Linked DNA regions of Homo sapiens: all the other regions are linked to region 4. Evidence: fine-mapped expression QTL. A gene starts in region 4. Each other region holds a variant in brackets. All regions are shown on one strand. Distances are between the middles of the regions.

Region 1 (5,076 bases), 53 kb after region 4:
GGCCTCTGGCTGAAAGAGTCCAAAGGGATTTCTGGAACTAATGGTATGAGGAAATAAAAGCAAAACTGGAATGAAAAGTTAGTTGACTTTTGTAGCTACCTTACAATTTACTCTGAAATTATTTAACATTTAGTTATTTATTAGCATAATAATTCATAAGTATACCAATTTATTTTACTTTCAGCTTCACAGAAAAGACAAATATTTTTCACTGTTAAAAGATAACATTTTCAAAAAGAGATAAAATTATGACACTTATACATATATAAAACTGAACAAGTGTTAAAGATTTTATTCAACTGGTAAGGAGGAAAGTAGACACATGTTATTGCAAGTTCAAATAAGTTAAAAAAAAAAGCACACATTTACATGGAGTAAAGGATGTTGAAAGGGATGTGCAAATGGAGGCAAAACTAACTTCTTTCACAGTGAGGGAGAGAGGTCAATCAAAACTCCTCCAGGCAGTTCAGAATTAGCATGTTATTAGACAAGAATTATTTGCCATTGCTATCAGTTATCTACAGTTCACAGAATTGTAAAATAGCTTCGATAGAATGAGAATCAAATAATGCAGGAGGTGCCATCTAGAGTCTATGTAATGCATAATTTTCCATTGAAGCAGAAATATTACCCCACATCACTTGGGAAACTCTATGTAAAATTTATAAAATAATATTTACCACAGAACATTTCAACCATATGTAAAAATAATAGTAATGAATACCAATATACAGTCTGCTTCAGCAATCAATGATATTTTGCCAATCTTGTTTTATCCACCTCCCCTACTTTTTTAATAAGCTGAAATATTTTAAAGACATACCCACATATCATACTATTTTAAATATCATACTCTTGTAAATACTACAAAATAAATTTTTTACATCACCACGATACCATTTTTCACACTTAAAAAATTAGCAACAATTCCCCAGTATTATCTAGTACCCACTCTGTATTCAAAATTCCCTGATTATCTCAAAAATATCTCGTTTAAGTTCTTCAAATTAGGATCCACATACAGTTCATACAGTGCATTTGGTTGCTGTGCATAAGTGTCAAGAATAGCCTCTCTCTTTTTTAAATGCTATTAATTTGTCGGTATAACCGGGTCAATTTTGTTCAGCATTTACCATCTTCTGGATTTTTCTGATTGCTTCTTACTGGCATCATTACATTGTTTTTCTTTTCCCTGCGTTTCTGGTAAAGAATAGTTAGATCTAGAGGATTGGTTAGATTTAGATTAAATCTTACTTTGGCAAGAATGTTTCATGAGGTGCATCACATGAAAAGGTATATAATATATATTTTATTCTCAGTGTAGATCCTCACAAAAGAGGAAAATGCTTTCAGAATGGACCATGCAATGCTTCCATGGTACGTCTCAAAAGATATTCCCCTGATGCTAGTGGACGACCCAACATCAATCAGCTCACTCTCTGATCTGCCTATCTCCAATGGGAATCTTATTGCCCTAGAAGGCAAATGTTTCCACAGCCTCAAAGTGTTTGAATTGTTCTTTCTCCCCCTCTAAATGCACAAAGAAATGAACAGCGCCCTGCAGTAATAACTATTTACTGCAACTGCTCTCAGATGTCTCCAAAATTGCTGCCCTTACCAGTGACCTGGTAGCTATTGCACACACAGTGGCTAAGTGCTTTCTCACAAAACACAGTAATCCCTGGTACCCCCTAAAGCCAAAAAGATCACGGAACTCAAGATGTATTAAAGACTTAAATGTAAAACCCAAAACCATAAAAATCCTAGAAGAAAGCCTAGGCAATAGCATTCAGGACACAGGCATGGGCAAAGACTTCATGACTAAAACACAAAAAGCAATTGCAACAAAAGCCAAAACTGACAAATGGGATCTAATTAAACTAAAAAGCTTCTGCACAGCAAAAGAAACTGTCATCAGAATGAAGAGGCAACCTACAGAATGGGAGAAAATTTTTGCAATCTACCCATTTGACAAAGGTCTAATATCCAGAATCTGCAAGGAACTTAAATAAATTTACAAGAAAAACAAACAAACAACCCCATCAAAAAGTGGGCAAAGGATATGAACAGACGCTTCTCAAAAGAAAACATTTATGCGCCAACAAGCATATTTTAAAAAGCTCATCATCACTGATCAGTAGAGAAATGCAAATCAAACCCACAATAAAATACCATCTCACACCAGTCAGAATGGCGATTATTAAAAAGTCAGGAAACAATAGATGCTGGTGAGGCTGTGGAGAAATAGGAATGCTTTTACACTGTTAGTGAGATTGCAGATTAGTTCA[T/A]CCATTGTGGAAGACAGTGTAGTGATTCCTCAAGGATCTAGAACCAGAAATACCATTTGACCCAGCAATCTCATTACTGGGTGTATACCCAAATGAATATAAATCATTCCACTCTAAAGACACATGCACACATATGTCTATTGCAGCACTATTTACAATAGCAAAGACTTGGAACCAACCCAAATACCCAGGATGTGTGTGGCACCTTTTTCTGGATTCCTCAAGGGGTCTAAGGGTGCGAGAAATCTCTAGATTTCTTCATGTGGCAAAAGGAAGGAGGAGCCAAAGTGGAAATAAATAGAAGAACAAGTCTTAGAGGAGTCAATTGGGAGAGATTTTAAGCTTTCCAAAGGCGAATGAAGTTTTGCATTTTTCTCATTAAAAAAACATGCCAACAAGAGAGGATGCAAACAGAGGGACCAGTCCCTCTGAGATTAACACCTTATTAAAAACGATTTCAGTCGACTGAAGAAACTTTCCAGGAACAGGGCCCAAAAGAGAAAAAGTAGAAAGATCTTTAAAAAAAAAAATCATAACTTGTTATCAGCTTTCAGTTAAGCTGGCTTCTGACCTTAGAGTTCTTTAAAAAAAAAAAAAAAAAAGTTTTCAAATCTCTTATCAGATTTCCACCAGCACAACCAGCCAATATTCCTGGCTTTTGAACTTTTTTTTTCTGTTAAACCAAAGGTATCTTTCCAAGTGACTCACTAAAATCAATAAGCCTTAACTAAGGTTATTACTGAAACTAAGGACACCCTAGACAGCTCCAAAGAGTCGCAAAGCAGTTCTCACAAGATGCAGGACCACAACAAAGATGGCTCAAAGAAAGGAAAGTTTTACTAGCCTCAAACAGGGAATAACCCACGTTTCTGTACAGCCATATTCTCTAGGCTCTCAGCTTCTCAACTGACCATCTACCTACAAAGACCCAAAAGCCTCATGTGCTCTCGGAGATGGAAGAAGACAGGCAATCAAAACCTGTCGTTGAAAGGGAAAAGGATCAGTAACAAAAGAGTACCTCCAAAAGTATCTTTTTAGAAGTATAACTTTCCAATGGTGTACTTATTCTTGTAGCGACTTAATCCAATAACTCTCTTCATGAAAAGCCCAGGAGGTAATTTTCCAGATTTAGAATAAATTTTCACCATATAAGCACGAGAGTTTTCTTGGAGAGAGCATAGAAAAGGCAATCTCAATGATTATCCAAGACAGACAGACAGACAGACAGAAAGAAAGAAAGAAAGAAAGAAAGAAAGAAAGAAAGAAAGAAAGAAAGAAAATTCACTCCTAAGAATAGGCTGAGATAGTAAAATACTTGTTGCCACAGATGGCTATGAATAGTGTTTGTTCTGCTGAAGTCTCAGAGAAGAAAAAAAAACATAGCATTTGTGCATACAGGGCCGCCAATATCCCACAAATCTGTGGATATTGTTAACAGACCTGTTAATCCATGACACTGGGTAGCTTCTCCTGGGATTGCACATTGCCAGGACTAACCAGACAACAACGTTGAGATGACAAAAGCCTCTTATGGATGGGACTTTTTATTAAGACAAACTGTCCTGAGAGCTTGACACATTTGGAACAAAAAGTGTGCTGCTTAAAATTGTGTGTGTCTTGGGTTCCAGACTTTTCAGACAGGGCTACCGGACAAGACGTGAAAATCACACCCCGAATGACAGTGCACCCGCTTGGTCACAAGTCAAGCTCTCAAAAACATTACAACAAGACAAGAGGAGAATCTCATTCAGTTTCTATTCATGGTTCTCACATTCTCTACCAGTGGGACAGAATCTATCTGATGGTATAACCCAAACCTTTCTTTCCTAAGCTCTGAGTCCTTGGTGGCCCTAACTTTGTTGGGTTAATGTAGTTTTTCTTAATTATTACCACATAACATAGAACTCTTGGGTGAATTCCTTAGGGTGCAAACATGGTCTTTCTTACCCCTATTCTGCAGCTGAAACCCAATTTCTCCTTAGTAATTCAGATCATGAAAAGTCTCTTCATGAAAAGCCCAGGAGGGGCTAGAATTTGGCTAGTACCATGACTCCCCTTTTCTGAAGGTCAATTCAATAGTAAGAGAAGCTGTAAATGGCTATGTGACAGTTTCAGTTTCTAATTTATTACAACCGTAACTGTATTCTCTAATCAAATAATTCTCTCGGGCACTAGGACCTCTAAATTTTCTGAATCAACGCTTTTTGATACAGTAAACAAAACTTAGTGAGTAGGTTATTAGATGTAATAATAAGAGACACATGGTCACTTTTATCTATTGTTTCCTGACCCTTGTCTTATGCAATAGTGTTTCTGCACCAAATATTGACCATGTGTTTAAGGTATATCGATATCCTCTAAAGCAAATTATAAATCTTGCAGGACGTTTTATCTCAGGTGGCACCATAACTGAGTCTTAGCTTGGTTCTTTGTCAATCTTTAGTTGATTCTAAGTCAATCAACTGTATCTAGGTGGTAAGAAGCTGGCAAGCCCAGTGAATTCTGTTGGAATGAGCTCTTCGCTATGCCTACTATGCCATAAAATAAATTCTGCAGTCTGAGGCAATGATGTGTGGGATACTACAGTGATGACAACACATCAGTGATGACAAAACAGCATCTACCCACAATGGTGTTTCTGAAGCTACTTTGGTGAGGAAAGCGAATTTATATGTGAAATGTGTAACTTTTCTATGAGAACATATTACTGCCTCTCCCTGATGTAAGTGGTTCAGTGTAATCAACAGGTCAGCAGCTGAATTGTCTCCCCAGAGAACAGTGCTATATT
Region 2 (5,076 bases), 23 kb before region 4:
TTCTATATGGTTTCAACACAAATGGGCTAGGAAGAACCCTGGCACCGTGAGCAATAATAGTGTCACTACCTTTTTCTAGAGGTGGGAGACAAAAACTTAGCCAGACACATTCAACAGTAAGACTCAACAAAGAATCTTCATATTCATGGACAGAAACTAAATCTGCCACATTTCTAGTAAGGTTCTTTCTTGGTTAATTAAATGTATTAATCTCTTCCAATTTCTATGTGCTATTTGTCCTCATTCCCCAAAGATTATGGCTTAGCTCAGTGTCTGCAGGTGATTGTTCTTCTCTTGTTGCAGGTAAAATCATCCACGATGCCCTCCAATATCATTCCCAATCAGTTTCCTGTTTCCCCTTCTCTTGCAGAAGCTCTGGAAGCCCACAGAGAACAGATGCATAAACACCATTTACCAGACACAGCTCAGCAAACCCTCTCTCTCTTCCTTCCAGCAGCTTGGTTGTCCTCAAGGAGTTCCTAAATTTCATACTTCTGAGGGTTATATGGGATGGTGAGGGGTGGAGGAGAGTAGCACGGATTGAAAAATACATTAATGTTGGCTGGGCACAGTGGCTCACACCTGTAATCCCAGCGCTTTGGGAGGCCGAGGCTGGTAGATCACCTGAGGTCAGGAGTTTGAGACCAGCCTGGCCAACATGGCGAAACCCCATCTCTACTAAAAATACAAAATTTAGCTGGGTGTGATGGCACATGCTTGTAATCCCAGCTACTCAGGAGGCTGAGGCAGGAGAATCGCTTGAACCCAGGAAGCGGAGGTTGCAGTGAGCTGAGATTGCAGCATTGCACTCCAGCCTGGGCAACAAGAGAGATGCTCCATCTTAAAAAAAAAAAGAAAAATACATTAAAGTGTACCAAAATAAATATATGACAGCTTTTAAATTATTTTCCATGGGAAAAAAACTTATAATTAGTGACAATTACTTACTGAGGGCCTGCTGGGCTAGACATTATGGACATTGTGAAAGATAAAAAGTTCAAGACACAGACTCTGTTTTCAGGATGTGTACGCTTTAAATATGAAGTTAACACAGGGCAGAAAAGTAGATACACACATGCACACACATACCTATACACACATACCTACACACACACACACACACACACACACACACAAATACTCCTCAGACCCAAAGGACGGAGACATCACAATGAACAAGATGAACAATTGGTAGGATTTTAAAAGACTATTTTCTTTTTCAGCAAGGAGGATGGAGTGGGCAGGTAGGGGATGGTATTTATTTCCCAAGCAAATCAATTAGAAAAAATATTTGTATTTCAGTAAATTTATTTTTTTCAATCTTCAGATATAAGAAGGCTTTTCCATGAAAAACACTCTATTTATGTCTCACTATTTAATTATCTAATGTTATATAAATAGTCACATACAGAATGAAGAATCAGAGCCAGGCACATTATAGAAAAGAATCTGTGACTTCCTAATCTTGCCATGAGTAGCAAGTTATTCTAACAGTTTAATCATGGAATTATTCAAATTTGCTCTGTTAACAAATTGAAGACTTTCAATCAAATATGTAACATTGCTGAAATGAAGAAATATTTCCAGTATAAATTGGACTGAACTGATAAATCAATGCTTTCTCCTCTTCAGATTCAGATTTAAAATGATGGTTGTTTTTCCGAGCTGCAAGAAAAAAAGTTAATTTTTAAAAAGATCAGATGACAAAATCTTCAAGAGACTATTTTATAATATTTCTTCCTGCAATCAGCATTATTAAGTGGGAAAATATCAACAAGAAGAGAAATGCGACTGCTCTTCCTATAGAACAGCCATCTTTTTTTTTCTTTACTTCTCTAACAAACTTACTTTCCAAAAAAAAAAAAAGAAGAAGAAGAAGGAACCAAGGAAGGGAGGGAGGCAAATGCTTGACAAAATTTCCCCAAATAAAGCAGTGCCCGATTTATGGCACAGTCGCGCATGGCCACAGCAGCTGTGCTGTACTCCCCCTGCAGCATATCCC[A/C]TGCTATGCTCACTCCGCAACTCATTCAAATACCTACCTATCAAATACACAAGACTTGATAACACAGCCTGGGGATGGAAATATAAACAGAACAGGTCCTAACACTCAAAAAGCTCAGCCTCGTAACCACACAGAATCATATGATAAAAATGTTTTTATGGTATATGGTGTATCATCACTGGATGCTACAAGAGTAAAAAAGATGGAGAAACTGGTGAAGCTGAGGCAGACAGAGAAGTGAGACATTTTCACTGGTAAGGCAGCATTATGAAAAACCAGGAGGCACAGTGAGAAGTTTGGCATGATGAAAGCTGGAATGTGAGGAGGTGAGAGCTCCTAAAGCTCCCAAAGTCAAAGTAAATACAGGCTCTTACGGCATTTTCAGAAAGAATGTTGGAAGATAAAAGACCACATAGACCAAATGCCACATGACTACTACTGCAGCAAATGCGGCACTGCCACTGCTGCCCTCATTCACTCCACGCACTCATGAAAATGTTCCTTTGGACTAATACTGTATATGGGATACTTTTTTTTTTTAATTTGGAGTTTTTGTCATAAAACCATCCACTCAGCTCTGCATGATTCTAAAGCAGAGTGAACTCAGTAGGAAGTACTTGACTTCCCAGCAATGGCAGGAGAGTTGATAAAAACTTAGGGCAAGCTTGGAGATGGAATGAAAGCAAAGTTCACTTAAGTCTTTAAATGGCTATACCTCACCAAAGTGATCTCTACCGTTTACAAGTTGTTTTTGTACCTCTGTCTTACACAGCTAGTCTTCACTTAACGTCATCGATAGGTTCTTGTAGTACTTTTAAGCACAACGATGTATAACAAAACCAATTTTTTTCTAACAATGTTATAATGAAACGACTTCAAAGTAAACAGTGTTGTTCAAGGACCTGCTACACACAGTTCTGCTTAAATCGTAGGACTTACTGTACCTATAATGCTCAACTAAGAAATAGGCATCTACAACCAAATTCTCGATTTTTCCCACAAACATAACACAGCATGAATATGTCTGTGTTTTCATCACCAAACAGCAGGCAGAGTTTATTTGCTTTCTCCAGTATGCCAATGCCTACAGAGAGGTAGCCTTAAAATCACAAACTGGTGGGTATATATTCAATTTGTATCACTGTCTTGGAAAAGTAACACCTAATTCTCAGACACTGTTAGAATTAAAGCATTATTCTAAGAAATGGAGAGTAATGGGGAAGAATCTAAATTAAAAGTATCCAAGAAGAAAGAGCTTGGTGTGGTAGTCTGCACCTGTAGTCCCAGCTACTCAGGATGCCGAGGCAGGAGGATCCCCTGAGCCCAGGAGTTTGAGGCTGCAATAAGCTATGATCACATCACTGCATTTCAGCCTGGGCGACAGAGCAAGATCCTGTCAAAAAACAAATAACAAAGAAAAAGAAACCAAAAAAAAAACTCTCAACATTCTTCACACTGTTGTTCAAGAATTCTGCCCACTGAAGCATGTATGATAATTGAAGTAACTGTCCTGGTTTTATTAGAATACCTTACATCTTGATTTTAGGGCTTTCACATTATTTAACATTTGTATTATTCTTTAAAGTTAAACCTATAGAACTTACAAAACATTTATAGAGCAAAAGGGTAGGCAAAAGTTCAGATAAGGGCAATTTTCTTCAAAACTACCCCAGAATAACAAAATTATGTACCCTCATATTACCTTCATTAACAAAAAACTCTGCTAAATAAAATGCGGTTTTCACAGCATTAGGTGCATGGGAAATGCCATCCAAATTCTTCCACTCATAAGGTGCTTTCTCTGGATGCCACTGGACACCATATACTGGATACTTATATCCTGTAAGAAGAACACAAATTAGTAAGTACTAAGAATGGTTTAAAATGTTACTTATAATGAAATTGGTTTATTTCTTATGTAAAACATTTTATAATTCACCTTATCAGACAAGGTAAAATTGTACATATTCTCTCAGACACAAAATAATTTCCATTCATAATCAATGTGAAAATTCCCTGTAACGTATTTCACTGATTAGCAACCTTTTACAATCTGTAGGACGATTTGCTTTTCGAGATACTCATAGCAAAGTAGAAGCTGAGCTGAGGAATCTATCCCTGTCCAAAAGTCAGATGCACATTTTATTGGTGATACAAGTTTCTTCCGCAGTGGGTCTCTTTCTCCCGTCTTGTAGCATGCTTTCCTGTCCTCCCATAATGACTTATTCATATGAGAATGAAGTATGGCAGCACTTCTGGTATCCTTTTACACCCTGCCTAAACTGCCTAAACTGTGTCTCTCTCTCAGTCTATGGAATGACTGATGACTTTGTGGTATAAATTTTTAAAATATTTTTTAGAAGTTTAAAAGCAGACATAAAACAAGAAGGGAAACAGAGCTGTTGACAATTGTCAAAGCTGATAGATAGACACCCAGGGTTCATATTACTCTCTCTATGTTTACATACTCATGAACAATTCCACAATTCAAAAAAAAAGTGAATATGTGTAATAGTTACCTTCAGAAAAATGTACATATTTGTCTCTTCTTCAGATGTGCCTTTCCTCATTTTGATTTAAAAAAAACAAATCTCCCCTCTATTATTTTCTGCTTTGGAATTGTAACCATGACCACCATCAGAAAGTACTTGGAGAAATGAAGTGAATTAATGAAAGAAGAGATATCTAGGGGTAAGAGCACTGTCTGTTCTCATCCCAGTAAGCTTTCTGACTAGAGAGCAGGCCACAGAAGGGAAACATTTTATCCCAGTTTTGTGGGTATTCACGAGAGGAAACACCTGCCTCATGCAGCTCCAGGCACTCAGCTCCCTGCCTCCCCCACTTCCGTGTGACACTGCCGTTTTTCCCCTCTATTCTGGGACTACCTGTGAAGCTACCAGCAAGAGACCCACAGGCTGGGGGACTAGGAAATTGTTACATAGAGTTAATTGAAAGGCAGACCTTCTAGTATATTGGATATAAATCTTTTTTATGATTTAAGACTATTTTTGTCCTCAATAATGCTTCATGCGTTGGAAAAGATACATATATATAAGAAATCTTCAAAAAGCTCA
Region 3 (5,076 bases), 150 kb before region 4:
TAACTGTTATTGTTTCTTAGTTTTTTTATTTGCTTTTTCATTTTGAAGGTTTCTGTTGATATATGCGCAAGCTCAGAGATTTTCCTCAGCTGTGTCTAGTCTAGTAATGAGCCCAACAAAAGCATCCTTTATTTCTTATACAATGTTTTTTATCTCTAGCATTTCCTTTTACTTTTTTCTTAGAATTCCATTTCTCTGCTTACATTGTCCTTGTGTTTTGCATGCTGACCAATTTTTTCATTAAACCCCTTAGCATATTAATAATAGTTGTTTCAAATTTTTATTCCAGTAATTCCAACATTCATGCCATTTCTGAGTCTGGCTCTGATACTTCCTTTGTCTCTTCAAACTAAGAAGTTTGAAGTTCTCTTTTAGTATGCCTTGTAATTGTTTTCTGATAGCTGGACGTAAGTGCAGAGCAGAAGGAAACATGATAAATGTGCCTTTAACGATGTGGTGGTAAGGTGTAGGGGGAAGTGATGCATTTTACAGCCTTGCGATTAAGTCTCAGTTTTTGAGCCTCTGAATTGTGACCTTCACAAATAAGTCTTAGTTTTTTGCTCTCCCACTTAGATGAGAAAGGATTAGTAAAGCAGGCTAGAGTTGGGTATTTCTCTTTCCCCAGGTCATTAGGTTCTGATAAAATCCTAATAGTTTAGGTCATGTTTAAAATAAAAGTTTCTCTTGAGAGCAGGGCTTGTTAAGAACAGAATGCTCTGACATATTTCAAAACGGTTTCTTTTCCCCTAGCCCTGCTGAGGGCACAAGGGGATTTTTCTCTAATACTCACTGTGAGAACTTGGTGGAGCTCCTGTAAATAAAACTTACAAAAATGTGTGGGGTCCTCATTTTTTAACTTTCAAATGGTCCACTGTAAGCCTCCAACAATTCATCAATTACGGTCCAAAGTTTTCTACCCGGTTTAGGTTTCTGTTCCATTAAGTTGTGATTCTCTGTACCTACGTGCATATCTCCAATTTTGGGAGCAGTGGTTTGCCCTGCAACCTTACTTCTCTGAGTATCTAAGAAGAGTTGTTGATTTTTCAGTTTTTCTAGCTTTTATTGTTGGAGCATGGACTGACGACTTCTAAGCTTTTTCCCTTCCAGACCAGAAATGTAACCTTTAAAAACAAAATTGCTAACTTTAGGCATCTTTAAAAGTGAATATGTTTTGTGATTTAGCTTTTTGCCATCTATTTCAACCCTTCCTATCTGAAGTTTTGTATTAGTCCACTAGAACAATTTTTAGTTGTCTTGCTTCTTAGCTTATATCAGTCTTTCTTACTTTTAGAGCAATGAGTTATGTATTTATGTGTTATTCTGTGTTGTTTATTCAACAAACAGGTTTTTAATGAGACCTTCTTACCTTTTGTTGAACTGATTTGAGAGGTTCCAAAGAATTATTTTCAATTTTTAGCAAAAGTTTCTTAGACAAATGCTGTGTGTCAGCAATGGACTAGATGCAAAGTTACAAAGAAAAATAAAATAAAGTAACAGTACAATAAAAATTCAAAATTTTATTGAACAGTCCAGGCACGGTGACTCACGCCTGTAAACCCAGCACTTTGGGAGTCTGAGGCGGGTGGATTACCTGAGATCAGGAGTTCGAGACCGCCCTGGCCAACATGGTGAAACCCTGTCTCTACTAAAAATGCAAAAAATTAGCTGGGCATGGTGGCAGGTGCCTGTAATCCCAGCTACTCAGGAGGCTGAGGCAGGAGAATTGCTTGAACCTGGGAGGCGGAGGTTACAGTGAGCCGAGATCATGCCATTGCACTCCAGCCTGGGCAACAAGAGTGAAACTCCATCTCGAAAAAAATAATAATAATAATAAAATAAAATAAAACAAAACTTGTTGAACATCATAAGAGGTCCCTCAGAAGACCACCAAAATAATGTAATATAGTATTGCTGATAAGCTCAGGATGAGAGATAGTAAATAGTAGATTCTCCCAAGGAGGGAGCCATCACTTCTCACTGATAAAATCTAACCATTATTGAACAACTGATATGCCACTTTTGGATAAGTATGTTTTTAGTGATTAAAAAGTACCTAAGGAAGTGAAGAAATATTTTTTCTGGTTCTTGTAAGTTGAGAAAAACTAGTTAGGTAATGTTTCATTTAGAAATGCAGAATAGACACAACATAGAATTCCAGAGAAGATCGAGGTGATCTCAGGAAGCCTTCATGACAGAGCACCTAGGATAGACCTTGAGCAACGGCCAGGATTCGGAGAGGAGAATTTGGTGAGCAAAGGTCTGACATTGGGATGAGCGTGGCATAACTTTTAATTAGGTTTGGGTTTGAAAAGAAAGAAAATATATCTTATTAATATTTCTGGTTCCATGTTGAGAGGCCACAGTGGAATGGTA[T/TA]AAAAAAAAACAAAGTTTCTCAATATGATTTTGGTTGGTTTCAAGACAGAGAAAATATATATTAATACAAGCTCTATATTCACCTTCCCAATTAGAGTGTGGTGTGTAGAAAAGGCTGTAAAAATAATTTATCTTGAACATGTTCTTTAGTTGAATAGGTGATAGTTTCAGCTGTTGGAATCCACAACTACCCTTCTTCAATCAGTTGATCTGAAGCAGCATTAAAATGTTCTGATAAGCTCCCTTGGAAGGATAGTAAGCCAACATTTACTAAACATTTAAAAACACTGCCCTTCCAAGGGGATTATGGAAGCATTTTTATGCTCTCTGATAGCAAATAAGTATACTCAATACCAAATAGATGTTTAGCAAATAAGCATTGATAGCTCTGTCTTTGTTTGTAATTGTCCTTTTGTTAGCTAATTTGAGCAACAATGAAAGGATATGTCATACAGGTACTTTCCTCATTCAAGCCCACTGCCTACATGCAGGATGCAGGTCACAATTCTCTGTTCAGGCCAGTTCTTCCTTTCAACTAACTTATGTTTCATGAAGTTATTTTCTAATTTATTGAAAAGTAGTTTCTCTGCCCACAATGAAAGTACTTTATTTTCCTCTGTGCTCCTTATACAATAGTGTAGAAAGAGCATCCAGGTATGAAATGTATATAAACAAAGAATTAGCATTCCATACTTGAGTTTTCATCTCTTCCACCTGGAGCACCATTAGATGTTGATGCTCTTGGAATGAACCTGCTTGCACACTCACCAGCAGCCTCTCATCAATAGGAGAGGGACAGGATTGAGGTACCCTCTCTGCAGGCTTGCCTGTCTACCCAAAAGGGAAGTGGTAACCAAAAAGAAAGGGTGTGGCATTTGTTTTTCATTCCACCCTCTCATCACCAAAGTCCTTCCGCACCATTTGCTAATGTGGTATTTCCAAAATTTTATCCCTTTATGATTGTTAAATGGCTTTGTCCCTTTAATTTTCTATCCTTTGAAGACTACCAGATGTCTGTAGTTTGCTGCATCTGAGAATATCTGAAAGAGAGCAAGGTGGGAGGGTACCATGATGCTGGACCCTTCTGAAGGCCAATGGGCAGAGGCAAGTATGATAGTTAATATTGTCAACTTGATTGGATTGAAGGATGCAAAGTATTGTTCCTGGGTATGTCTGTGAGGGTGTTGCCAAGGGACATTAACATTTGAGTCAGTGAACTGGGAGAGGCAGACCCACCGTCAATGTGGGTGGGCACCATCCAATCAACTGCTAGCACGGCTGCAATAAAGCAGACAGAAAAAGGTGGGAGAAACTTACTTGCTGAGTCTTCTGGCCTTCATCTTTCTCCTGTGCTGGATGTTTCCTGCCTTTGAACATCAGACTCCAAGTTCTTCAGCTTTTGGACTCTTGGACTTACAAGAGTGATTTGCCAGGGACACTCTGGCCTTTGGCCACAGACTAAAGGCTGCACTATCAGCTTCTCTACTTTTGAGGTTTTGGGACTCAGACTGGCTTCCTTGCTCCTCAGCTTGCAGACAGCCTATTGTGGGACTTCACATTGTGATCATGTGAGTCAATTCTCGTAATAAACTCCCCTTCATATATACACCTATCCTATTAGTTGTGTCCCTCTAGAGAACCCTGACTAATACAGCAAGTGTCGCTGCGTGGTGGAAAAATCGAGCCAGCTTGACTTCACTATTAACTATTAAAATGCTACATCTAGTTAGCCTTTTGAACAGAGACAAAATTCCTTCCATATTTACCAATTCACATGGTAATTTTACTATTTCTAAGATGTAGATAAAAATCCTTCAAAAGCCACAAGATATAGTTTCAGCCTTAAGAATGTGGCTTCTTCCCTCTTTCTCCTTCTTTTCTCTTCATCACACTCTTCATCCTCTTTCTCTTCTTCCTTGCCTTCCCCCCGCTTTCTCTTTTTCATCTTCACACAATAAATACTAGCTGAATGATGAGACTAAAGTAGGGATGTCAGGAAAGACCCTGCTGAAAACTATTTGAGAATCCATGACCAGTGGAATAAGGCTTAAACTCCTGCTATTTGTAGGATTAGAATTGGTAGCAATGGCACAAACAACAAAACTAGGGCTGATGAAGATGGGTGACATAGGAGATACAATAGATTCCTAAGGCTGCCTTAATTCATTTTAGCAAGGATTAGATATACTTAATAGTTCCTTTTTATACAACCATTTAATTACTTTCCTGAGTAGAGGTATCTGTATGTATTATATAATGTAAAATCTTTCCAAATTAGAAAAAAATAATAAACAGAAATAAAAAGGAAAGGAAGGAGCATTGTCCTTTAGACAATATTATTTCATAGTCAGATCCTAACATAGGTTAACATTTCAAATGACATCTGCAAAATCTCTTTCTAAATCTGCTTCCATCATAGTGTTAAATACTTCACATTAGCACCATGTGGAGAAAAAGGCAGACATTTTTAAAATTGTCGTCTTATTAACTGATGTGAGAAAATGTTTCTGAATCTAATGAAGTATGAATTAGTTATATCCTTATATTTTCCAGGCTGTGATTATTAGTACCCTAGTGAAATGCTGAAATCACATGTTTGAAAATACAGATACAAACATATTTCTGAAGAAAATAAATAAACCAAATCAGGCTTGTTACTCTGGTTCAATAATAAATTCAAATATGAAGAACAGGAACTCTTAA
Region 4 (5,076 bases):
GTGTAGCAGGGAGGGGAAAGAGGACAAACAATAAACAAGACAAAAAGGCATAATATATAGAGTGATGGCTGGTCGTAAGCACTAAGGAGAGAAAGACGGTGGGGAAGGAGAGCCCATCTATGTAGGAAAGGACAGTCTCTTCAACACGGTGGCCAGGCAAGTCCTCCCTGAGAAGGTAAAACATGACATTTGAGCCAGGACTTCAGAGAGGTGACAGAGTAAACCACATTCATATATCTGGGAAAAGAGCAATCCAGGACAAAGGAATAGCAAGTGCAAAGGCCAGGAGTCAGATTTGTGCCTGTCACGTTGCAAGGAATCCATATTATTAGAGCCAGGTGAGTGAAAGCAGAAAGCAATAGGAAAGGACATCAGGTAGCGATAGATCAGCAAGCAGGTGTCACCACTTTGTTTAACTACCTCAGTGGGTCCCTAAACTTTAATAAACTCTGTAAGACCCGTATGCTCTGCCCCACCCATCTCTCTGGCCTCCTTTTACCAGTGAAACCCAGCCCCAGCAGAGTATAGCAACCAGTATACATCAAAACACGTCTGTCGGGTGAGTACCTGTGCCTACTCCTATTCAGCACTTCAGCATTTGGAACACTTTCAGTGTCTCTGTAGGCCACCTGATAGGAAGAGCTGTTGTCTGTATTACTCACTTTTGTATTCCCAGCTTCTTACAATTGGCATTCATCAGGTATTCAGATTAACATGTCAAACGCCAAAATTTGTTCAGTAAAACTTTTTCTCCTTACTGGTAGGTAAGATCATCTTCACTAAGGAATAACAAAGTTTGGCTAGGGAACGAAGAACTAGGAGTGTCATAGGAAATGGAGTGGTACAGGGTACATGGGGTGAGGTACCACAAAGGAGACATGGGGCATCATGGGAGCACAAGGGTACCAGAAAGAGAAGTACATCAGAGTGAGTTCCACCAACATCTCCCCTTCCCCTGGGCCCACGCATATTCACTTTTCCCATCCCTGGGAAAAGAGCTCAAGCTGTTCTCCCTGTCCCTCAAAATATGACCAAAATTCCACCAATAATTTAAGGCCATCTCACAACTTTTGTGGCTTGTCATCTTTCAATCCTTTGCACTTCCCAGAGCAAGATTGTGTACATAGTCGGTACTCAGTTAACGATGTTGTGCTGATCTCAGTGACCAAAAGCAAAGTCCCTTTTTTAAATATTTGACGCAGGGCTACCCCTGATTCTAGGAAAGGGGAAGAATCCCCTCTGCTTTTTTTTCTCTTCTCTGGACACACAATATGCAACCTGTTACATTAATTACAGCTTGAGTTAATTCGTGGAGAATCAAATCACCATGTTAAACAGCTATGAAATAAGTTCCAAATATTAGTAAGCAACCCATTTGAAAACTGGGCACTACCTATATGAAAAAACATTCATCTACTTTCTGTTTAGTTACAGAATACAGTGATAATATTCATAGAAAAAAATAGTATGAAAGGCATAATCCTACAGCCAAAATAAAACTAATCTTAATGTCCACACACAAATTTCTTTGGGCAAATTTTAACCCCAGGATGATTTCTCCTAGGTAGCTTTCCTTGGGCCTGTCTCAAATGTGTGTTTTGGTAACACAGACTGATTTTACTACCTCTTTAAAACACAAATATGTTGGAAACGAAAAATTGTGGGCTGCATTTTAACACCAAATAGAACTCACATTAGGATATCAGCCACTGTTGTCCTCTGCTACTGAACATGACAAAATCCAAGTTATACCTTAATTTCTTGATTTTCTATTACAATGCACTGGTATTTTAAATACGCCATCAATACATTTTGATGAATGCAATGCATGTACAGAATTTGTAGATGTAAATGAGTAAAACTTCCCAACTATGTGCGAAAAGGAAATGTTTTATTTTAGTAGAAATTCCTAGCTGTGTACAAAAAAAGAAAATCCGCAGGATTCTTCATGGTGCACCCTCCTCCCTCCCACCTTTAAGAGTCATATGAGTCTAAAGGAATGAACGAGGTACCTCAACCAGGTACATTTCAGTACGACCTAAATGGTGCCCAGCCCGGGTTCCTCCTTGCACCAAAAGCGAAGCACATCTGGGGGTTTTTCCCGGCGGGACGCGCCAGCTGGAGCGCGGCGGCGGGAGGCGCCCAGCGCCAACACCCAGCTCCTCCCCGTCTGCTGCGGCCCCGCACAGCCTCCTTACCGATGATGGGCTTCTTGGCGGTGTCGCCGTGGGGTCTAGACAGCTCGAGGCTCGCCGCCCCGCAGAGTAGCAGGCCCAGCACGCACAGCAGGCAGCCCGGACTGGCCATGGCGCTCGCCGCCTCCCGCCGCCTTTCAAAAGCTCTGCGGGCGGGCGGGGGCTGCGGCAGGGACACCTCGCGGCAGCGCACTCGCGTGAGACTCGGGTGGGCGGTGCTCCGCAGCGTGGGCCTATGGGAAATGCAGTCCCGGCGCGCGCTAGGCGGCCGTGGGGCGGCGGTGGGAGGCTCTGGGAGTGCAGCCGGCGCTGCGCGCCCGCCCCATTGCTCTGTCCCCGGTCCGCGACCGCGACCGCGACCCCGACCCCCACGGGCCGCCTAAGCGGAGACTCTGGAAACGCCTGGGGCGGGTACCGGGTGGTCTCCGCGTCCTTCCCTTTCAACTGTTACGTCGATGTGGACTTCAGTCACCCGTACAAAGCTGGGCTGGCCAACCCAGGTCCTCGAGAGGGGAGGTTGGGTGTCCCCGGCCGAGTTTGGTAACCAGGCAGCGGGGAGGCTGGCAGGGGATTCTAGAAGGCGCCTGAGAACTGCGCGCCAACCGCACCGCCCCCTTGAAGGTCGGGGCCCTATCTCCGGGAATGGTGACAACGTTCGCTGTACGGACAGCCTGTGCCCCTGAATGTGAATGTCCACACTTGCTATTTGGGGGGTCGCGGCATCTGTAGGAAGTGAAGACGGGACGGCGATAGGAACACACGCACAGGCGCATCACTAGGGTCAGAACTGGGCCAACTCCGGGCGTCTACTTTGAAGCGGGCACGCCCAGGCCACGCCTGCAAACGGCGTCAGCTTCCTCTGATCAACCGCGGTCAGCGCCATCCACCGACCACCACTAAGCCTATCCACCGGGGCAGAAAAGATGACTGGTTCCTATTCGTTAAAACTGTTGATTGTTCCTAAATACATGGATATATAGCTTGTACTCAGTGAAAGTTTCCATCTATAAGGGCCAACTGAAATTCAGCATAAAACAAGAATATTTGAAAACCTGCTACATCAATGCTCAGTATTAAGGGTGAAAACGTAAATTGGACAGTCTTTTTCACAAGAGGTTTAAATTCAGTAAGGAAAAAAGGCAGAAAGCGTGACTCGTAGAGACAACAGGAACAATTTTAGCATGTTGCAAGAAGAGTAAATGCAGTGAATAGTCTGGTTTAACAAGAAAATAACGCTTCTGTAGAAGGGTGTGGTGAGAGGTAAGCAACAAAGGATGTGATGAAAGACATGAAAGGGCCGAGCTGGTTTTGAGCATGATTAAATAGACAAGTAGCCTTGTAAATATGAACTTGTGGTGCCAGAATAATTGACTATCCACATAGGAAAAATTTTTTACCCGGCGTTACACACAAAAATAAACTCGAGGTGAAGTGCATATGTAAATACGAAAGCAAAATATTATACTTTGATAAGAAAATATATAAATATATCTTCCTAACTTAGGCTGTTGGAAGAGTTTCATAAAACATTAAAAATAAAAATGTTAATTAAAAATTGACTATATAAGAAAATTAAAGTTAAAGCACAAACTTGGAAAATATAGTTATAAAATATAAAGTATTTCTAAAATATGCGAAGAAATAATAAGAAAAATGACACAATAGAAAAATGGAAAAAGAATGTGAAAAGCAAACCAAACTTTCTGTAGTCATCAGAAAAATGCAAGATAATATGTCACATCCATTAGACTGTGTAGAAAAACAGCCTGTTTCCTGGCAAGAGTGACACCATCTTGAAGCAAAACTATCCTGGGGACTGATGTTTGACCCACAGCATACCGAGGTGTTCTGCAGCAAAGGTCTTTAAACAATGCTCATAACATATATAACCCCTCATAAAGATGCTTATCTAACGTCCCCAGTGATCACAATAGTCTAAGAGCTAACTAGTTGCACTTGTCTTTACCCTAGAGGCTTGCTAAATAAAGCATACTTTCTGGAGGGCAAGTGCAGGGGTCGCTTCTGTTTGTCTCTACTAAGTATTTCTTTCTGAGAAATTCGATTGGTCAGCCTCTTTGGTCTCCCAGCTTCCTCCATCTTTGGAAGCAGGTTTCTGTAAATTGACAAAAATGTAAGCCTTTGATAATAAGTCAAGGATGTAGTAAAATGACAGTTCTCTGCATTTCTTGTGGAATTGTAATTATTATAACTATTTTTGAGAAAAATTAAGCAATATCTGGTAAAGGTGAAGATCTAAATGTTCTGTAACCCAGTACATTCTGGATATAAGTGTGTACCTAGATTAATGCGTGCTCATGTGAACAAAAAAAATATGTGTAAGTATGCTCTTTGGAGCATCTTTTTGTAATAGTAAAATATTAAATGTAAATGACCAATGTCATAAAGTTTTTCCCATGTGTTTTCTTCTAGTAATTTTACAGTTTCAGGTCTCATATTTAACTGCTTAATTCACTTTAGTTGATTTTTGTTCATGGTGAGAGATAAGGGTCTAATTTCCAGATTTTCCAACACTGTTTATTGAAGAAGATGCCCTTTCCCCATTGTGTGTTCTTGGCACCTTTGTCAAAAATCAATTGACAGTATATGTATTGGTTTATTTTTGGGCCTTCTATCCTAGTGCATTGGTCAATGCCCGTAATTTTATGCCAGTACCATGCTAGTTTGATTAAATTACTATAATTATAATATGTCTTGAAATCAGAGTATGATGGCTTCAACTTTGATTTTTTTTCTCAAGATTGTTTTAGGTATGTGGGGTCTTTTGTGGTTTCATACAAATTTAAGGATTTTTTTACATTTATGTGAAAAAAGTGACACTGGAATTTTGTAGAGATTACAATGAATCTGTATATTGCCGTAG
Region 5 (5,076 bases), 690 kb before region 4:
GATGGAGGGCAGTGGCGCAATCTTGGCTCACAGCAACCTCTGCCTCCCGGGTTCAAGCGATTCTCATGCCTCAGCTTCCAGAGTAGCTGTGATTACAGGCACTGCCACCATGCCCGGCTAATTTTTATATTTTTAATAGATATAGGGTTTCACCATGTTGGACAGGCTGGTCTCGAACTCCTGACCTCAAGTGATCCACCCACTTCGGCCTCCCAAAGTGCTGGGATTACAGGCATGAGCCACCGTGCCCAGCCGAGTAATGAGCTTTTCACCACTGACAGTGATCAAGCAGAGCAATCAGACAGAAGTATATAAAAACAGATATAAAATTAAAATGTAAATAGTATATATAATAAATGTATAAATATATAATATATATTAACATATATACTATAAAAAGTTATGTAAATGTTAGAATAGATAATATAGTCATCCCTCTGTTCCCTGGGGATTGATTCCAGGATGTCTACAGATATCAAAATCCGAGGGTGCTAAGTTTCTTGTATAAAATGGGAGAGTATTTGTAAATAGCCTCCTCACATTCTCTCACATACTGTTTAATCATCTCTAGGTTATTTATAATACCTAACACAATATAAATGCTATGAAAAGTTGTTACATATATTTGTATTTGTATTATTTTTATTGTTGTATTATAATTGTTTACTCTTACTTTTCCTCGGAATATTTTTGATCTTCATTTGGTTGAATTCACAGATGTGGAACCTGTAGATACGGAGGCCTGACTGTTTATATTATAATATATAAAATAAATATACATATAAATATATAAACATTTAAATACACAACATATATCATATATAATAAGAATACATATGTATATTTGTGGTTATTTGTCTTTAAAGCATCTTGTAGTTTGTGCAAATTGGACAAATTATAACTTCACTACACCTCAGGTATTTTGTTTATGAAATATAAATCAGTTCCTACATTGAAAAGATGTTATAACAACCAAATAGCATCATAATATGAAATTGACCAGTTTTTGTGGTTTATCAAATGTCCATTAAATGTTAATTTCTATTGGACTGAACATAATGAAAATTACCTTTCAGTTTTCTGGAATTTATGATTGTAAGAGGAGGTAGCATCACCAAAAAGTAATGACAGATTGATTTTGAGATGCTATGCAGGCATCCTGGGCAACTGTGGAAGAAGAAGCAGGTTTACAGAAGTTATGTTCCAGGATGGAGACAGAGGTGTTCCTCCTGGTCAGGGTCCCCATGTGTATGGATGAACACTATGGATGAAGCTCGTGGGCTGGTCAAACACCAAGTATGAACTGGCAACACTAACCAGGCAGGGAAATGGGTTGAAACTAAAGGATCAGCTACAAATTGGAGAGAGGACATATTAGGAAGAGATAGTTATGTTATTAGCCCAAATTAGACTTAGGAGAGCAGGAAGGGATGTTTAGGGAAATCAGGCAAGGAAGAGGACAGAGGTGCTGAGACACTTCTGTCGACCTGACTCCTTCCCATTGCTGAGCTTCAGCTCAGGCTTAGCCCTCCTCGCCTGTGACCTCTCATCCCTCAGCACTCTGATCAAGATCTCCTTGCTGAAGCTCCTGAGAGAAGTGACAACTCTCTTCTGCATCTGACACACCTTTCTCTCTTAGCACATGGACCATTTTATTCACTCATGCTGATTCCAATATTAGACTTGAAGTGCTTTGAAAGAAGAAGCAACATTTTCTTTGCCTCCTTGGGAGTTATGGAGCCAATGAATCAAATAAAAACATGCACAGACAAGAAGGCTCTGCAATGCATGAGCCAGTCAGAGGCTCTGGAGGATTCTTTGAGGGAAAAGAAGCTGAGCATCGTCTTCTAAAATAGCCTTCTCCCCGCAACATTAAAGATAACTGGCATTTGATCTACATCTTGGAGAGTCAGATAGAAAAGGTTGCTTTTTATCTCTTGAAATTACTTTATCTCACATTGTTTGAACCTTAACTGAACTGCTAACCACCATGAGGACACTGTACATCATGTTATAATTACAGGTGAGCATGCGTGTCTCC[C/T]GTCTTCTCGGCAAATTCTCCAGGTCCACAGAGAGACCATTCATCTTTGTGGAACACCCACTACTTTCTTACCTAGGCAGTGATTGGAAGAAATATTAGGTACCACATTAGTATTTTGGAGTGAATGAATTAATGATATAAATTCTCAGGACATTCAGGCAGACTGATGACTTCAGGGGTCTGTACTAATAGGAAGAACAAGAGTCCATCTGCCTTCTTGTTACTTGATCAGTAATAAAATCAAACCAACAGTCTGCACTCCCAGATGTTGTGTAGGCTGTGTCTTTAAGTTAAAAAACTACAAAGCCTCAGTGTGCCACCCAGTGCCTAGTAGGCCTGTGCCATCAGTGTAGAAGACTGTGCTATAGAGATCTGTGACAAGGGTTAGTCATGCAGTGGTACATATACCCAGGTGAACCTTGGCCTGTTTTACAAAAAAATAAAAAAATAAGCCAACTCTAAGACAGGGTTAGTTTAAGTGTAGTTTAATAGTTCCTATGTACATTCTTAGTAAGAAATGTTAGCCCAGGGATTTTAATGCAATTAGAACTTAAATTCTATTTCTGCAAAGAAATGAGTTTTTATTAACATTACTGATGTGAAATGATTTCAGAAATCCCCAGGCTGCCAACACTGAAATTTGATCCATAGCCTTGATTCTCCTCACTTTGCATACTTGTATTTATTCATTCATTATTCATCTATTCATTCATTAAGCTATTAGTCACAAATATTTGTTAATGTATGAATGGTATATTATCTGTTTTTTAAGGAAATTAAAACTATGAGATATAGCACTAGATTATAGCCTCGCCTATTTCACTGGGCATTTTAGGAAGGCAGTAATTGATAATGTGTCATTAATTTTTATGTGATAATGTCTATTGCAGTTCCTGGCACATAGTAGGAACTCCATAAATACTTACTAATAAATAAATAAATTTCCTACCCTTATAGAGAATTTTTTGTCAAATGTGAGTAACTAATTTTTCTTATCCCATATGGAGAATAACTTTTTTGTGACTAATATTATTGGGATTGAAACAGACACAAAGACAAAATTTATAATATAAAATAGATAAATTGATTTAAGATTTCACAGGCATGATGTTAATGAACATTTCAGATGCTGGGAGAAATTTCAAAACTAAAGCTACATTTTAATGGCTCCTTAAAAGAAGCGAGTGTGCATAAGGGATTTGTGAGGAGAAGGGTTGATTATAGCTCAATCTGAGATGTTTAAGAGTGGATCTTTAACTGAATAGAAGAGATTGTGTTTTGAAAATGGAAAGCATACAGGTTATTTTTGTTTTAGGAAGGAGACACCATGAATATCTCAAAGCTTTAGAGAAGTGAAATTCTTTTAGAAAAACAACGTTGTGATTAAACAATAAAAACAAAATATAAGCACCATTCTTGCCATGGTTTTTGTTATTTCTAATACAAATTATATGTAATCATCAAGCTGGAAAGGGCACTAAAGATCTTTTAGCCTACCTTCTTTTTTTAGGTGAGTAAACTGGAGAATATAGAGATTTTTCAAGAACTGGGAAGGGTCTGAGATTTTAGGCTATTTGCAAACTAACTAGTTAGCTTGTCACGGTTTCATGAATGCTGGTAGAAAATGCAAGACTCCTGGATAAGAGGTGAAAGACAGTTTCTTTTTTCTTTCTTTCTTTTTTCTTTTTTGAGACGGAGTCTCTGTCATGCAGGCTGGAGTGCAGTGGCGCGATCTCGGCTCACTGCAACCTCTGGTTCCCAGGTTCAAGTGATTCTCCTGCCTCAGCCTCCTGAGTAGCTGGGACTACAGGCATGTGCCACTGTGCCCGGCTAATTCTTGTATTTTTAGTAGCAAAGGGTTTCACCATGTTGGCCAGGCTGGTCTTGAACTCCTGACCTCAGGTGATCAACCTGCCTCGGCCTTCCAAAGTGCTGGGATTACAGACGTGAGCCACCGCGCCAGGCCGACAGTTTCTTATACACGGAATGACAATAACCAATGTATCAGCATCTGTATATCCAATCCTTAAGCCCCATTTCCCACAGGGGACATAAAGAAGGCTCCCTGATACATGTACAGGCAGAGCTGCATGGCAGGAGGAGAGCCCTGCACTTAGGACCCAGGACCTTTTCCAATGGGTAGAAGGCAAGTCGGCCCTTTCTCCTGGAGGGTGATTTATCTTTATTACACTAGAGAGTAAGCAAGCTATCCCTTTTCTCTAGAGGGTGATACTGCCTCTATCTTCTCAGGCTGTTTGCTTTCCAAACACCTTCAAAAACTTTATCCAGAACACAGGGCAGTCAGCACTTCACTGTCAAGATGCACAGAAATGTGAGAGATTCATAGAGAATTATTTTTCAGCAGGGATGAGTCACTTGTAGAAGACCACACAGTTGTCTTCAAGCTGAGGGTTCTTTTCACATCATTATGCTGTTTCCCCATAAATACCTGAAGCCACATCAGCATTTTCATGATGCGTAGATTCCTATTTTCTGGAAATTTGTTTTTTCCATTGGAGAGGCAAACTTTGAAATCTTCATAATAAGATTCATGAAGTCAAGACAGTTTATGCTGTTTCTAAATATCCAGGTTGTTTTACTGCCTCCCTTGCTTCTGGGATCAGCATTGGCATCCCAGTTTTACCTTGGATAGAATGTGGCCTGGCATTGCTTAGGCTGATGGAGGCAGTGGAGGTAGTTAAGAAGGAGATGGAACCAAATGTCCAGTAAGTCTGAATACAAGGTAACTCAGCATCACAGATGATTTTCCTGTTTTCTCAATTTTTCTAATATTTGTCACCAGTCTAAATGTACAAAGTCTTAGGGATGTAGATGAAATTCTGTGGCTTACTTACAACACTTAATTTATGACTTTAATTACCCATACATACTTCAATCACATATGCAATTATATGGTATGTTAGTGAAATTGCTCTTTCTCCCGTCTCCTGAAAAAGTGTTACTCAAATTCTACACATGCATTTGCGACATTTAGAGCCATTTTGGGGCCATCTGACGTGGTTTTCCAGGACCAT
Region 6 (5,076 bases), 89 kb before region 4:
ATATATTTGAGCTCCTTCCAAGGGCTGGCAAGGCACTGTCCTGTATATAATATACATTTTTCTTGTCAATCTTCATAGTAAACCCATTGGAAGTTACTATTAGTGTTAGCCATTGTAGAAGAATTTAATTTCTAATAATGGTCACAACAGTATTTCCTGTCTAACTTCCCCATCAAGAAGTGGGGAGTTGCTGTTCTTGCCTCTTAAGCCCAGGCTGGATGGGCAGCTGTCCTGACTAATCAAGTTTGGTGGAAGTGGCTCTGAGTGACTTTTCAGGCCAGATCATAGAAGGCGACACAGCTTCTGCCTGGCTATATTTGGTTGCTAGCCCTTGAACTCATCTACCATTTTGCAAGGAAGCTCAGGCCACATGTAGAGCCCCTTGTGGAGAGCAACAAGGTCTCCAGCCCTCAGCCCCAGCTAAGCAAACAGCCAACAGCCTGTCTTGACTTGCCTGCCATGTGAATGCACCACCTCAGAAGCTGCTCCTGCAGCCTCCCGTGCCCCAGCTAACATTGCATGGAGCAAAAATAAACCTTTCCTGCTAGGCTCTGCTCAGACGTGCCAATACATGAGCAAAACAAATGGTGATTATTGTTTTAAGACACTGTTATGTGGTTGGGTGCTATATAGCAATAGATAACTAGAGCAAGCAGCTTGCCCATATGAGCAACTGCCGCTTAGAGGTTAAATAATTTGCCCACAGTTACACAACTAGTAAGTGTAGAGCTGGAATTCAAAACAAGATCTGCCTGATACATAAAATCAAGTCAAGAGGATGAAAGAGAGAGTTTTACCTATATCTGTGACTTGGTATTTCCTTTTTTTTTTTTCTTTTTTTGAGACAGAGTCTCTCACTCTGTCGCCCAGGCTGGAGTGCAGTGGGGTGATCTCGGATCACTGCAACCTCCTCCTCGAGGGTTCAAGCAATTTTCCTGCCTCAGCCTCCCGAGTAGCTGAGATTACAGGCACGCGCCACCACGCCCAGTTAATTTTTGTATTTTTAGTATAGATGGTGTTTCACCATGTTGGCCAGGATGGTCTCCATCTCTTGACATCATGATCTGCCTGCCTCGGCCTCCCAAAGTGCTGGGATTACAGGCGTGAGCCACCGCACCTGGCCAGTATTTCTTAAAATAAAAAGAAATTTGAAGAAAATATAGCAAAAAATATTTATCTTAAAGTGGAAACACAGGCATCTATTATTTTATATTCTACATTTTTCTGTGTATTAAAAGTGTTTTACAACTTTAAAGTATCTTTTCAAAGATGAAAGCAAAGTCCTTATCAAATTTCAAAATATGTTTAAGATCAGACATGAAAAATAAGTTAAACTTTAAATTGTGTTAAGTTGCCATATTTATAAAACCAGAGGCATTACTAATGTAATGTCTAGATGATAAAAGAAGATCTTGCTTCAATTTGCCCAGTTCCAACCTCTCTTTCTTCATCTAACGGTGTTAATTCACGTCTTCGTGCCAATGTTCTGAGCTTTTAGCTCAGCAGAATCTTGAAAAATCCAAAGAGATATGCATAAACGTACAGGAAAATAGACTCCAGTCCACAGAGGAGGATCCAAGTATCTATTCTGGATTTACCATAAGCAGCAAGCATTTCCATAAGAGAAGGGAAACATTAGCACTTAGACTGCCTCTGAGGAGCACAGTAAATTTCTCAGAGCTGAGGGTGACTCTCCCCATAGCCCCTGGAGGGCTACATCTTCAACTTCATGTGACATGTAGTGAATTATTTCTCATAGGAAGCTGCCAGGTTGAAAGCCAGCCACCTTGCACATGTTGTCTCCTGAACAGCAGCACGAGACGAAGGAGAGTCAATTGCCTTGAGTTCCCCTTTGATTCTGCATAAAGTCAATCAGGTTTGCCATGGCTGAGTGGGGACCTGAATCAGTAGCACTGAATTATCTAATGGAAACTTCATTTGTGTGTCCCATAAACAAATAGAAAAGTTGCTATTGGTTGTGTATTTTTTTACAAGTAGAATACAAGTCTGTATTTGCACAGTCAGATGCTGCTATAAATCTAAAGTAGCTCTGTAATTCCTTCAGTTCTGTGAGAATCCTTGTCAGGAATTGGTGGTGGCTAGAGCGAGTAACCACAAAGATATTCTGTTACAAGTAATATTATTTCTTCCAAGAAGTTGCTCGGCTGTGCTCCTGGAAGTTGGCACAGGAAGAAGATTTGAAAGGACTGCAAAAGGGTTTCCTGGCTGCAGGCTCTCTCCAGGGGATCTTTGATGGTAACACCTCAGGTTCTGAGAATGGGTGTAGAGAGCAGCCCACTGTGTGGCTGGCTTTTCTGGATAGTTGATGCCAACCCTTAATTGTGTTGCTTTTTTTTTTTCTAAAATATATTTTTCACTTCCAGGATCTAATAATCAAAGTACATGGAACTCAATTTCACTGTACTGCAGGCTCCCAGCAAGCTGTGCCCTGATGCTTCCTTCAGTTGCTCCATCTCTTCTGCTCAATAGTGTTCTTGCTGTTATAACTACAGATTTCCTTGGATGTTTTTATTCCAACCTTCCTTTTCTAATACTTTTGAAAACCTGTCCATACCTTTTCTATTTCTTTTCGTGTTTCATTGAAATTCACACCCTGATTTCCACTGAAGAAAGTACTTAATTCAGCATCTTCTCTTCTCTTATCTTTCTCAAAAAAGTGAATTTAAAAATGCAGTTGCTTTACTTTCTTATCAGTGTAATATGACTGCCTTTCCCCAAACATAATTAAAAACTGAAGGTCTTTCCTAATGAGTTATTTTTAAGTCTTTTGTTAAGTGTTCTATTTCTTAATTTTCTTCATTTTTTAAAGCACTTGATGTCATTTTAAAAAAGCTTTAAGAATCTGTAAACTCGCCCTCTGTGTACACTTTAATTTGCCCCTTTACTTGAGCTCTCATCCCACTCTAGCAAATGGAAGGTATTGATGCATGCATGACAAACTGTTTTTTAATATGAAAACATCCTCACCTTGAGGACTTGGTGGCTTCTGTGGCCAAAAAGACTCATTGCTCTATCCCATCCATGAAGAATTCTTGATATTTCAGTTTCTTTATTACTTACTTTTCAAAGATTCCTCCTTAATAGTTAAATTTTTTGTAGTCTTGTCTA[G/A]TTCTAGAATCTTGATAATTTAAGTTTTACCTATATGTGATATATTATTTCTAGAGTTTACAACATTTACATCATGCTAGGTTTCTGATATGCAGAGAAGGTATAGCCAAAAAACAAGTAACAGTTTAAAAAGAAAGAAGAAAACAAATAGCAATTTAAAAAAAAAGAAAAGAAAAAACACATAGAAGGTGTGGCTGATTTATAGTGCCATCAACTGCAGGAACCAGATGTCCTAATTTGGTTAAAACAGTCCTTGCTTACACAAGTTGCCCTGGCACTTTATCTGGTTTAGACTTTGTCCTACATTTTTTAGTTTTCAAATGAAATATTACTATTAATAGTTGTATTAGGCAAATCTAGAATGGCCACGTAGACAACTCTTTCCATTTCTACCATAGTCTTATCAAGGTATGCGAGATGCATGAGCAATAAACAGAATCCTTTTTTTTTTTTTTTTTTTTTTTTTAGAATTCTCTTTTAACTGTATGGTTAAATCTGTAAGAAAACCAACAATACCACTCTCTTTTCTCCAAAACTTAAAAGACACAATATAACTAGCACCTTCCTTTCAAGGGCAGTATGCAACCTGGTCACTGATAAAGATATGTACTTGGATAGGAGTAGTGGAGATGGCTAACACCTTCCAGTCTCAGGTGGGTGTGTGAGAGGCACTGAAATCTACAGCTCCTACCAGCACCTCTTCCCACCATATCCAGCTGGTAGGGTCAGTGGAGAGCACCTGGAAGTGTAAGTTAATGCACTGACACATTAGGAGAAGAAGAATTTCTCAGAGTTAAAATAATGATATCAGTCTTATATACCAGTTTATAATACTGGAATTACATTAGTTTATCAAATGCTTTCAACAGAACACCAATTAAATTATTTAAATAATTTTAATTTTTTAATCCAGTTCATAGAATTAGCATAAGCCTTTTAAATTTGTTTGTTTGTTTGCTTTGTTTTGCGGAAAGGATCTGAGTTTGTTTCCCAAGCTGGAGTGCAGTGGCACAATCTGGGCTCACTGCAACCTCTGCCTCTGCCCTGTGGGCTCAAACTATCCTTCCACTTCAGCTTCCCAAGTAACTGGGACTACAGGCACATGCCACCACGTCCAGCTAATTTTTGAATTTTTTTTTAATGGGGACGGTGTTTCCCCATTGTTGCCCAGCTGGCCTCAAACTCCTGAGCCCAAGCAATTCACCCACCTTGGCCTCCCAAAGTGCTGGAATTACAGGCATAAGCCACTGCACCTGGCTTAGCATAAGCCTTTATTTTATTTCATTTTTTATTTATTTTATTTTTATTATTTTTGGAAACAGAGTCTCCCTCTGTCACCCAGACTGGAGTGCAGTGGCATGATCTCAGCTCACTGCAACCTCCATCTCCCAGGTTCTAGCAATTCTCCTGCCTCAGCCTCCGAGTAGCTGGGATTAGAGGTGTGTGCCACCATGCCCAGCTAATTTTTTAATTTTTAATAGGGACAGGGTTTCACCATGTTGGCCAGGCTGGTCTCAAACCCCTGACTTCAAATAATCTTCCCAACTTGGCATCCCAAATTGCTAGCAATATAGGCATGAACCACCATGCCCAGCAAGCATAAGCCTTTTAGATGTTCATTCTGTCCAAGGTAAAACTCTGATATTATTTTAAATCCTGTCATAATCTAATTAAGTAGTAAATATTAAAGATAAATATATTTATTTTGTGGAAATAATACAATACAATTTTTGTGAAGTACAACATATGGGTTAAAAAAAACAAAAAATATTCTTACTAAGTTAAAAAATACATGAAGCAGAACTGTATTTGGAATTCAAGTGCACAGGAAACTTACAACTGCATCCTAATAAAGCCACACTATTTTACCAATGAAAACAGAAATTCAAAGTGTTTTCAAAATCTATATATTTAGAGTAAATAAAATAGAATATTTTTGTGATGAGG

Direction of the effects. Positions count from the first base shown, and alleles are read on the strand shown. Sizes are in standard deviations (SD) of each study's normalised expression. Not every link is listed here.
For the expression in monocytes after LPS of the gene that starts at base 2,345 in region 4, allele T in region 3 goes with a lower level than allele TA (moderate effect, 0.66 SD a copy in Fairfax 2014).

Evidence for each region. PIP is the estimated chance that this variant, and not a neighbour inherited with it, causes the effect. A credible set is the group of variants that fine-mapping cannot tell apart.
Region 1: its variant is the best candidate, but not a certain one, in a credible set for the expression of GGH in aorta (GTEx, PIP 0.62).
Region 2: its variant is the best candidate, but not a certain one, in a credible set for the expression of GGH in whole blood (INTERVAL, PIP 0.75).
Region 3: its variant is the best candidate, but not a certain one, in a credible set for the expression of GGH in monocytes after LPS (Fairfax 2014, PIP 0.81).
Region 5: its variant is the best candidate, but not a certain one, in a credible set for the expression of GGH in aorta (GTEx, PIP 0.85).
Region 6: its variant is the best candidate, but not a certain one, in a credible set for the expression of GGH in whole blood (TOPMed, PIP 0.88).

The regions. Positions count from the first base shown.
Region 1 is chr8:63,089,579-63,094,654 of GRCh38, forward strand. No RefSeq gene overlaps it. Among named protein-coding and RNA genes, the nearest start is that of TTPA, 6.1 kb to the left of the region's middle. The variant T/A (reference allele first, on the strand shown) is at 2,289.
Region 2 is chr8:63,013,789-63,018,864 of GRCh38, forward strand. It overlaps GGH (gamma-glutamyl hydrolase), which reads right to left. Exons shown (of 9, transcript NM_003878.3): 8 at 3,705-3,842; 9 at 1,291-1,665. The coding sequence ends at 1,544. LOC107986946 (a long non-coding RNA gene) reads left to right here. Exons shown (of 4, transcript XR_001745930.2): 4 at 371-622. Among named protein-coding and RNA genes, the nearest start is that of GGH, 22 kb to the right of the region's middle. The variant A/C (reference allele first, on the strand shown) is at 2,003.
Region 3 is chr8:62,887,560-62,892,635 of GRCh38, forward strand. All of the region lies in intron 4 of NKAIN3 (sodium/potassium transporting ATPase interacting 3), which reads left to right. Among named protein-coding and RNA genes, the nearest start is that of GGH, 150 kb to the right of the region's middle. The variant T/TA (reference allele first, on the strand shown) is at 2,374.
Region 4 is chr8:63,036,462-63,041,537 of GRCh38, forward strand. It overlaps GGH (gamma-glutamyl hydrolase), which reads right to left and starts at 2,345. Exons shown (of 9, transcript NM_003878.3): 1 at 2,199-2,345. The coding sequence starts at 2,307. RefSeq lists a silencer at 2,379-2,738.
Region 5 is chr8:62,350,736-62,355,811 of GRCh38, forward strand. The region is part of intron 1 of NKAIN3 (sodium/potassium transporting ATPase interacting 3); the gene reads left to right. Among named protein-coding and RNA genes, the nearest start is that of NKAIN3, 100 kb to the left of the region's middle. The variant C/T (reference allele first, on the strand shown) is at 2,042.
Region 6 is chr8:62,947,375-62,952,450 of GRCh38, forward strand. All of the region lies in intron 5 of NKAIN3 (sodium/potassium transporting ATPase interacting 3), which reads left to right. Among named protein-coding and RNA genes, the nearest start is that of GGH, 89 kb to the right of the region's middle. The variant G/A (reference allele first, on the strand shown) is at 3,130.